2 separate regions of the Homo sapiens genome follow, and region 2 is linked to region 1. Evidence: fine-mapped expression QTL. A gene starts in region 1. The other region holds a variant in brackets. All regions are shown on one strand. Distances are between the middles of the regions. Region 1 holds the start of C11orf91 (chromosome 11 open reading frame 91). Region 2 overlaps CD59 (CD59 molecule (CD59 blood group)).

What was found. PIP is the estimated chance that this variant, and not a neighbour inherited with it, causes the effect.
Region 2: its variant is the best candidate, but not a certain one, in a credible set for the expression of C11orf91 in breast (GTEx, PIP 0.76).

The regions. Positions count from the first base shown.
Region 1 is chr11:33,697,665-33,703,036 of GRCh38, forward strand. C11orf91 (chromosome 11 open reading frame 91) reads right to left here and starts at 3,162. Exons shown (of 2, transcript NM_001166692.2): 1 at 2,581-3,162; 2 at 597-850. The coding sequence starts at 3,076. The coding sequence ends at 765. CD59 (CD59 molecule (CD59 blood group)) reads right to left here. Exons shown (of 4, transcript NM_000611.6): 4 at 5,346-5,372. RefSeq lists silencers at 2,828-2,917, 3,098-3,337.
Region 2 is chr11:33,719,074-33,724,444 of GRCh38, forward strand. It overlaps CD59 (CD59 molecule (CD59 blood group)), which reads right to left. Exons shown (of 4, transcript NM_000611.6): 2 at 3,306-3,390. The coding sequence starts at 3,372. Among named protein-coding and RNA genes, the nearest start is that of CD59, 15 kb to the right of the region's middle. RefSeq lists an enhancer at 4,923-5,012. The variant A/T (reference allele first, on the strand shown) is at 2,810.

The DNA.
Region 1 (5,372 bases):
CAAGAAACCCCATGTGAAATTCTGCCCTGCCTTCCTCTGACCCACCCTGGCAATCCTTACTCTGCTTTTTTTTCCCCCTTAGCATGTCATCTTCTATGATACCATATTATGATTTACTTATTTATAATATTTATTGTCTGTCTCTCCCCCACCCCCAATCCCAAGTGCCTAGGCACAAAATAAGCACTCAATAAATATTTCTTGAATATATGAATTTCTAGGAAGGTCCAGGGCTTTGATAAGATTATCAGAGAGTTTGTGGTCCAAAAAACATTTTAAAAAAAATGAAAACACCAACCACTTCCAAGGAGTAAATATGTTTGGGAAAAAAAACAAACCACACACCAAACCTCCACTATTCCAGTCCTCAAAGAACCTTTCTGAGCAGAGACACAGCAGTAGAACCAATATATACATTGCCCTTGGTTTCTCCCGATTCCTTCCTGATAATCTGTTGTTCTGGTTTGCATGACTGTGGTAGTGTTGGGGGTTCCCTCCCTGGTCTCGGGAGACCTTGAATGCTGGCTGGACAGCAGCTTCTAGACACCATGAGAGAGCTCCCTCAGCAGCACATAGAGAGGAGAGAGACCATGAGATTTACCACACAAAGTGGGCACTGTATGTGAAGTACATGCTGGTAGCAACAAGAACAGCGGTAAATACAGAACAGAAAATAACCATCTTTGAAATGACAACAAATGGGACACATTATCTAAGCACTAACACCTAAGGAGGTGGCTGCCCAAGCTCTGGTAGGCAGCTCCTCAGGAGAGAGAGGCCGACTTCTTTCCAGGTTGCTTGGTCTTCAGTCCTTGTAACTTTTCGTCTTTTAGCGCCTTCAGGAATGTGTCTGCAGGAGAGCAAAACAAACTTAGCCGTAATAGAGATAAGGGCTTTTCCTAACACTTCCAAAGCAAACTCTTGGGAAGCAACTGTGCTTCCTCGACCCTAAAACTCCATTTGTGATCCAAGATGGGAGAGAAAAAAACAAAAAACTGAAAACTCTGACTGTAAAAACATGTAACTGGTTCTGACTGTACATGCAACACATCCAGTTACATGTGTTTTTACAGTCAGAGTTGCTAAGTCCTGGATTTCTTCTTCTTCTAATTTTTTTTTTTTTTTTTTTTTTTTGAGAGGGAGTCTCACTCTTTCACCCAGGTTGGAGTGCAGTGGCACAATCTTGGCTTACTGCAACCTCGGCCTCCTGGGTTCAAGCGATTCTCCTGCCTCATCCTCCCGAGTAGATGAGATTACAAATGTGTGCCACCAAGCCCGGCTCATTTTTGTATTTTAGTAGAGACAGGGTTTTACCATGTTGGTCAGGCTGGTCCTCAATGATCCTCTTGTTGGTCAGGCTCCTGACCTCAAATGATCCACCCGCATTGGCCCCCCCAAAGTGCTGAGATTACAAGTGCCAGCCACCACACCCGGCCCCTGGATTTCTTAACTATGTATTCGGTTAAGATTTCTTAACTATGAATACATAGTATTATGTATGTATTCATAGTTAAGAAATCCAGGACTTAGCAAAGCCCAGTTTTTCTAGGGACTGTCTTCCTTCCATGGCTATGAGAAAGGGTGCATTACAGTGTGTCTGATGAACTGAAGACCATTTCCATGGCCACACGGACCTAAGCATTTAGGTTATTTCATACTTCCCTTCTCTGTGTGGCAGGGGAAGCCAACTTAAGCCGTTATATACGATAGTTGGAATGATCTTTTTAGAACTATCTGCCCTTCTCCAGTGGTCAAGGACAAGCCTTAGCCAAAACAAGTGATGGGAAAGACAAAGTCTGCAGGACAACCTACCGCTACTGAAAGTTCTACTTTGCAATAGGTCCTTCTTGGAGTACAAGGCATTTAACAACTTTACCCTCCAACAGGGAGGAGTCATTCAGCTCGTAGGCTGAGGGATCCTGCCCGCATCAGCACACGTGGTCCAGAGCCCTAAGACTTCAGACGTAAGACCAGATATCAGCCCAGGATCCTGGTGAGAGAACTACCGGCGCCAAGGCCACAGAGTCCCAGGGGGGCTGCCCCCCAGCATTGAGAAGTGGAGTGTCCCAAAGCTGCCCTGGAAACGGCCTTGGGCCTTGTGGTTCTTGCACAACTCCCACCTCCCCCTACAGACAACTGACAGTCACCTTACTTCACCTTCCCCCCATGGAGAGCCCCGGTTTAGGACCGAACATTAAAGCTTAGGGACTGTCTGTGGTGGGTGGAGCTCCAGAGTACAGGGTAGGAGGATGACTGTGCAGGAGGATTAAAGTTCAGGACGGGGTGGTGGCGGATGGAGTTCCAGGTGTGGAGGCTCAGAGTCCAGATGACCCAAAGGGTTTAGGACGGAGGGAGGATGGAGTTTGGGACTAAGAGGCTCATGAAGTTCAGATCTGTGGTGGGGGGAGGAGTCGGTTAAGTCCAGGATAAGGGAGTCTGGGTGCTAGGGGATAGATTTTGGATCTGGGACTACTGGGGGCTGGAGTCAAACCAGGCTACATTTCGGGTCGGGGCACGGAGCCAAGGAGGGAGCTAGGGCAGGCTAAGGCTGGGCTCGGTGGCCCTGGCGAGGTCACGCACAGCTCTGGGAGTCGAAGCCGTCCCCAGTGATGGTGAGCAACTCCAGCTCCTTAATCCGGATCTCCAGCTCGCAGAGCTCCTCCGGGTGGGAGGCAGAGGCGAGCCTGGGGGTCGAGGGGCAGGGGACCAGGGGCGAGGCAACCACCTCAGGCCCCGGCGGCGGTGAGTAGAAGAAGCGCAGAGGCTCGTAGGGGATGGAGGCCAGGCCGGAGGGCCAGGGCGAGGGCCAGGGGCGCTCGCTGGAGGGACCCAGGCCGGGTGGTGGCGGGGGCGGGGGCGCCGGGGCGGGGAGCGCCTGGGACAGGGACCGGGCCCCCGCCGCCCCGCCCACTGGCGCCCCGCCCGCCTTCAGCGGCACGAAGAGCTTCTTCCAGATGTTGAAGTCGCTGAGCGGGGACGAGGAGATGCCGCGGTCGTACAGGGACGGGAAATAGAGGGGCGGAGCCGACCGCTGGCTCATGGTGGGGCTGTGGCTGCCGCGCCGCCCCTTTGGCATCGTTTGAATGAGGGTCTGCGTGGGAGGAACCCCGCGCCGGGAGACGCGCGCTCAGGCCCCGAGTCGCCGGGGTTTCGAGGTTCCACAAGCCCCGCCCCGATGGAGCGCGGCCCCACCCTTTCGCCTCAGCCCGGCCCCTAACAGGCGGGGTTCCAAAGCCCGGACGACCACGTCCCGGAACGCGGCCCCGCCCACCTCGGCTGGCCGCACCCCGCAGTTAGAAAGCCACGCCCCCTGGCTCGCCTCGCCTCGCCTCCCGTCCCTCGACTCCGCCCACCGCCTCGCTCTTGCTCTGCGACCCCGCTGGCTTCCGTTGTCATATCCCAGCATACCCTCATCCAGAACAGGCAGCGGGCCAGGGCTGCAGAAGAAAGCTTACTTCAGGCTTCCTCTCTTTCTCCCATGAGGGAGAAAAGTATTTCCTAGAAACCTGGCCCCTGCACCAGCAGACTTACCTCATTGCCTCACTGGCCGCGCCCACAGCAAAGAAGTCTGAGAAAATCAGTGTCTGATTTTTCATCCACTACTGTGGGAGGCAGACAAAGGAGAAGAGGATTGATTGGGAATGGCTGTTAGAGCCAACCTATGTATCTGCCAAACGTTAGCAGTGTTGAGGAAGATTCTAGAAAAGGGGATCCTCATCTGGTTTGTAATAGACCTGAAGGAGTGTTTTCAGTGAAATGCAGTTTAGTTCTCTTCCAAACACAGATATCACCAGGAGCTAACAGGCAACGAGCTAACCACCAAAAGGAAATCCTGTCCGCCCTACCTCAAATACTTCACCCATTGCTTATGAGCGATTTGGACATTTTGTCCAAAGGACATGACAGCTCATTTATGTGAGTAACCTGTATTAGCCATAGACTGAGGGGAAATAACTAATACATTTTCTTGAGAGCCTCTGCCTAATGATCACTGGTATGACTAGTGATGGGTGGAGGGCAGTTAAAGAGTCAGTATCAGCTTCACAAGTTAAATATATATATGCATATGTATCTGCACACACAGTGCAAAGTGTGTGTGTGTGTGTGTGTGTGTGTGTAGCAGCAAAGTGGAGAGAGTCAGATATTCAAGCTGGGTAGCCTTGGACAAGTTGCTTGACTTTTAAGTAGGTTTTCCATAAAATAGAAATAAGAAAACCAGGCTGCCTCATAGGGTTGTGATCAAACAGAAGACGGAACAGTGTGTGTGTGAAACACTTGAACTTGGACACTTTGTCCAAACACAAGAGGCAGCTGTCCCTACTAAGGGGCATGTCTGAAACTGGGAAGCTTTTTCTTCCCACACTGAGCTTCCCACACTTAGTTGTCACACGCAGTATTTGCTCTCTGACTTTGGCAGCCACCCATCATTGTTTATTCATACAAGTGATCACTAGGCTGAGGCTCTCAAGAAAATGTATTTCCCCTCAGTCTATGGCTAATACAGGCCATGTGCGATAGCTCAGCACCCAGCCTGTAATCCCAGCACTCTGGGAGTCTGAGGTGGGATCTCTTGAGGCCAAGAGTTTGAGAACAGCCAGGGGCAACATAGCGAGATTCTGTCTCTATAAAATAATTTAAAAAATTAACCAGGTGTGGTGGCATTTGCCTGGAGCCACTCAGGAGCTGAAGTGGGAGGATTTCTTGAACCAAGGAGGCTGAGGTTGAGGCTGCAGTGAGCCACAATCATAGCACTGCACTCCAGCCTGGGTGACAAGGCAGGACCCTGTCTCAAAATAAATAAAATAAAATAAAATAAAAAATACCCTTATCTTCCATTAGTTTCCCCCACATATTTAACTTCCCATAATTTACTGCCCAAGAAGCTCAAACCTCTTTTCCTTTGTCTTATCACTTTTCTACAATCGCCCATTGTTAAAATTGTATATAAGCTCTCAAGCCACTTCTTTGGGTTTTCACTTTGTTTCTGTAAGAACCCCATGTACCTGCGTAATAAACTTTGTCTTCTGTTAATCTGTCTTTGTCAGTTTAATTCTCAGGCCCCAGGCTCTGAACCTAAGAGATTAGAAGAAAAATTTTTTCACCCCTACAGAACCACAGTAATGGTAAGAACCAGGGTTTTGGACTCAAGACTTGGGACCAAACCCTGGATCCACTATGTATTTGGCTGTGCGGCTGAACCTTTCTCAACCTCATTTTTTCATCAATATAATGGGAATAGTAATGGCATCTACTTGCTTAGGTTGGCAAGACTAAGTGAGACAGTTTAAGTACCTGGCAATGGCTTGTGTTCAACATTAGCTCTTGTTATTACATATTAAAGGCCCTTAGAAGGAAAAGAGATTTTGCGTTAT
Region 2 (5,371 bases), 21 kb after region 1:
TTTAGAGCCCAACAGCTGACTTCTAGTTCTAAGGCTGAAGGCTAGGTTTATCACCATGGAAATAGATTTTTCAGTGGAAAGTCCAGTGGAAGCAAGGTGGGTCCTCACTTTCTGAGCACACACAGGAACCCAGTTCTCTAGAGCATCTGAAATGGCCATGTCTGCCCTCACAGGTGTGAAATCCTACCCAATAGAGGATCCTCTGACTTGTGAAGGTTACAGATTAATGCCTTGAAATATTAGTTTTAAAAAACAACAACAAACTAGGCCAGGTGTGGCGGCTCACACCTACAATCCCAGCACTTTGGGAGGCCGAGGTGGGTGGATCACTTGTAGCCAGGAGTTTGAGACCACCCTGGCCAACATGGTGAAACCTCGCCTCTACAAAATATACAAAGATTAGCCGGGCATGGTGGTACATGCCTGTAATCCCAGCTATTCAGGAGGCTAAGGCATGAGAATCATTTGAGCTTGGGAGGTGGAGGGTGCAGTGAGCCAAGCTTGCACCACTGCACTCCAGCCTGGGAGACAGAGCGAGACCATGTCTAAAAAATAAATAAAATAAAATAAAATAAAAACCAACCTCCTCCCCAACTTTTTTGCAGATGACAAGACAGATGTCTGGAGAGGTGATGTGACTCACACAAGGACACCTGGCTACAAAGCAGCAGAGCTGGCGGCAGCCCTGGGGCCTGTGGGCAGGGCCCCATCCACCAGGCTTTGTTTGTTCTCCCCCACTGTCAGCCTGTGGCTGTCATGCCCGTGTGAGAGGGAAGCCACAAGGAGAAGGCGCAAAGATGCAATTTTTCTTTGGTCCCTTCCTTGTGCCAGACATGTATTCACACGCATGAAATGAAAAGAGTCTAAGATGAAGGGTGTTGTTCTTGAGACTGGCCATGTTTGAGGGCCATTTTAAAAGGTTACCTGTAGACATGGATTTTTGTGGTGGCTAGATCCCGGGCTCATTTGGCCTCTTAAGAAAGCTTTAGAAGGAAAGGCTAAAACCCATGGTTGGAACGTCTGTGGGCAAAAATATTCATGGCAAACATGTTCATTCAGTGTTCAAATATATGTGCATCTATGTGCTAAGCTCTTCATAGGATTGTTAAGAGAACTAGGCTCAATTATCTTCATCCCCACCTTGCAAGAGAAAACTAAGACTAAGATGTTAACTAAATTGTTCAAAGCCACACAGCTACTAAGTGACCGAGCTGAGCTCAAACTCAGGCTGTCAGTTCTAAAATCCAAGCTTGGTTAACCATGATGTTCTTCTAATTGACCTGAGTGGGAAGAGAAGGAAACTCTAGATTATGGTGGAAACTGAGGTCAAAAACAAGCAACAGGGCCAGGTGCAATGGCTCACGCCTGTAATCCCAACACTTTGGCAGGCTGAGGTAGGTGGATCATTTGAGGTCAGGAATTCCAGACCAGCCTGGCCAACATGGTGAAAGCCCGCCTCTACTAAAAATACAAAAATTAAAAAGTAAATAAAAAAAAATACAAAAATTAGCCAGGCATAGTGGCATGCTCCTGTAATCCCAGCTACTCAGAAGACTGAGGCAGGAGAATCGCTGGAACCTGGGACACGGAGGTTGCAGTGAGCCGAGATCGCGCCACTGCGCTCCAGCCTGGGCGACAGAGTGAGACTCCATCCCCCTGAAAAAAACAAACAAAAAAAAACAAGCAATAGGTCAGTGGACAATGGTTTGATATTTTAGCCACTAAGCCAGGGTAGACGAGGTTTCCCCTGGGCCATAAGAGGCAGAGCTCAGAGGAAAGTTCCCCTGCAGGGTCCTGAGACCCTTTTGGGCAGCAGCAAAGAAGGCCTCTCATCTGTGGGCATGTGAGCTTCACATCTCAATTCTCTGAGAAAGGGCTGAAGTGCACCCCAAGACTTGTCACAGAGAAGCTGATGGTCCCAAGCTTGCTCCATAAACAAATGCAGACTGCTGGAAGTAGGATGTCACTGGGCTATTAAAATTCTAGAAAATATTCCAACTTAAGCAGCAGAGACAGAAAAAAAGAAGGAACCAAGAAAAATGAATAAATAAAAAATAATTATAGAAAAAATATAGTGTTTTAACACAGGTGAACCACATTACAGTGCACCCTGGCTAGAATCACGGAAGGTGGGGAAGAAGGGGTGCCATGACTTCTCTTTCTGCTCAGAAAGGGAGAACATATTAAAGTGTGTCCTGGCGCCAAGTTACTACTTTGCCTTCATTTCCTCAGCTGTAATATGGGAGGTAACAGTACCGACCTCCCGGAATGGCTGGACGGATTTAAATGAGACAGGCTCTGGCACAGTCCCCAGTAAACAATAAACAGTGAATATATGGTTGCTGTTAATATTCTAAGACATGCTACAGTGGTGTGGAAATCTTTTTTTAAATTGCTCACTGTATTGCCACTTTCTTTTCTGCTCCCCCCACCAACCATATTTATAAAAAACAAAAAACCAGCAGTGGCCAAGATATTATACCAACATGACACAGGCAGACAACCACACTTGATCTTTACAATGAAGCATGTGTGTTTCCACTGTTATAGAAGTTGACTCAGAAGCACACAATTTCCTCCAGCAACCAGGGGAGGGGTGGCTGAGGAGAGGGGGTGGCCCAGTGACAGATGGCCTGGAGCAGGAGGGAAGAGCAGGGACTCTGTTGCCAGACTGTGTGTTCACATTCCCGTGTACCACTTCTGTGTGTTATTTGACAAGTTATTAATTTTGGGGAGGCCTCAATCTTGTTGCTTGTAAAACAAGGATAAAAATACCACCAACTCCATCAGGTTGGCATGAGGATTAAAT[A/T]AGCAAATACACGTAAAATGCTTAGAGTAGTGACTGGCACATAAATGCTTCAGGGTTAGTTAGCTGCTGCTGCTGTCACTATGACCATCATCATCATTAAAACACAGGAGGAGCCTCAGAGCAGAAGGACTGAGCTCAGATGGCTCTAAGCAGAGTGGACCCCAAAGGGACTTGCACAGCACTCTAAGAATGGTATCCATTGGTGTCCCCAAGCAGCTTATGGTGACAGGAGTGAAACTTCAGCCGCCGATTGTTGACCCACCCCTGCCAAAAGCCACGCTGTAACTCAGGACGGGCTGTAACTCAGGACGATGCCCCACTGAGGACAAGGTCATAACATAGGAAGGAGCTGTCATACAACCCCAGACCTGTAACACTGGAAGGCAAAAGAACCAAAGCCAGGCCTGGAGGAGCAGCTGGGGCTGAAACTGAGGCTTAAGAAGGGAGTTCATGGCCAAGGCAGCCTAGATCCATGTCCTGAGACTGGAGCACTCACCTGAATGGCAGAAGACAGCCAGGACGAGCAGCAGCCCGAACAGGACAGACCCTCCTTGGATTCCCATTGTGATTGTCCACAGAACCTGGAAGGAAGGGACAGGAAGGAATGTCAGGAACGAACAAATGACTGCTGGTTGTCTCAAAAACCAAGGGCTGGAAGGCCAAGAAGGCTTCTGAGAGGAACATTTACAGGGGGAGTCAAGGCACACTGAATCCCTGGGCCATGCCCCAGCTCTGACCCACAGCACCATATACCCTTGAGTAGGCTCAGTCCCTATAAGCCCCAGTGTGTACTACCACACTGTGGGAATAACACTATCTTCCCCATCAGGGTCAGTGAGTCAAATGACAATATGAGCAAATTGACTCATATAGCCACTGTGGTTCCCACTCTACTGGCCCCACCCCAAGCTGCTGGCTGAAAGAGAGGGCCACTTCTCGGAGCCACAGCACTAAGTGAATCAGACCAAAGGGGTGACTCTGGAAGGCACCAGCATGCATTCAGCAGTGGAACAGGGAGCAATGGCTTAGCATACCTGGAAGCTCTGGCTCCTCACTGTAAGAAGTATAATGGGGACACTTGCTTGCTCTCTTTGGGGACATGAAGAGAGGTATTGAGCAACTTTGTAAGTTTCCATTACGTGAATGCCTAGATGTGTAGTGATAGCATCAGGTGAGAAGAAGGAAAGCCTGAAATGCCTCCAACCCTACTTTACCCAGTAAAGAAGCCAAAGCTTAGGGAGGTTTTGAACTTGCCTAAGTACAAAGCATCCATAGCAGAACTAAGAAATCTCCCAACTCCAATCCTACATCCCTGAACCCATCCTGAAATAAGGAGGTGGCAGTGCCTGTAAACCAGGGTACTCCATATTCTATTCTCCAGAGCCCCACAGGCCCGGACAGACAGATGGGTTCTTGGAAGGGTGAGTCATCTACCCTCCCTAAGTCAGAAATGCAGAGTTCCCTGGGGAACTGACAATCCTGACAATCATTCCTGTCCCTTCCTTCTCACACATCTTGAAGGTCATCTGCTACTTAGGAATTTGCTGACGCAGGCCAGTGGAGGACTGAGAAGTTCCAGGAAAAGGGCAGGGTCTGACATTGTCCAAAAAAGAAAACAATCAGTGAGTCAAGCCTGGAGATGGGGGTGGTGGAGATGAGAAAGAGGTGGTTTTATGATATGTGAGGAACCAGGAAGAAAGACAATTGTCATCTGGCCTTTCCTTACAAATTGAGGGCTCCCCACCACCCGCTGGGCTCTGAAACCTACAGCCTGCTACGGGACACCATCCCCCATGTGGACCTTCCCAGGAGACCTGGGCTCCAGCACATGCCAGCGGCTTGCTTGGTTCCCCATTTTCAGGGGTTTCTGAGTAGGAAGGGTGATTTATAGACTCAGGTTAGACAGGGCTCCAGTATACAAGGAACTGCTACAAGTGAGCAGGGAGAGGAAGGTATTGGTCTGAGGTCCCCGAACAGAGAGCTCCAGACACTTCCTAAAAGTTAAGCATAGCATGATCGGAGCCTGGGTATTATAGTGAGACCCTGTCTCTACAAAAATAAAAACATTAAAAAAAAATTAGACTGGTGTGGTGGCACATAACTGTAGTCCCAGCTACTTGGGAGGCTGAGGTGGGAGGATCGCTTGAGCCCAGGAGGTAAAGGCTACAGTGAGCTGTGACTGTGCCACTGCACTCCAGCCTGGGTGACACAGCAAGGTCCTCTCTCCAAACAAACAAACAAAAACCCAATGTAGCTACAATGTCAGGCATCCCCACGGAAGGAGGAAGGAAGGAATCTCCTGACTCGGGTTAGGCACTGGAAAGGTGTCAGGCTGGCAGGAGCTGCCGGTTCAGGACACTTCCCTTGGAATGGTCCTTGACATAAATCACACTGCCACAACACACAGGGCCCCTGATGGGGAGCTGTTCTTTGAAGTACCTTAGAAAGAAGTGGCCTGCTAAGAAAGCAGGAAGAACACAATGAAAGGGTTCAGAGCACAGGCATTCCAGTCCAATCTGGAGGCCTCTGAACAAGGCCAGATAGTTCTGGCTCTGTCACCTC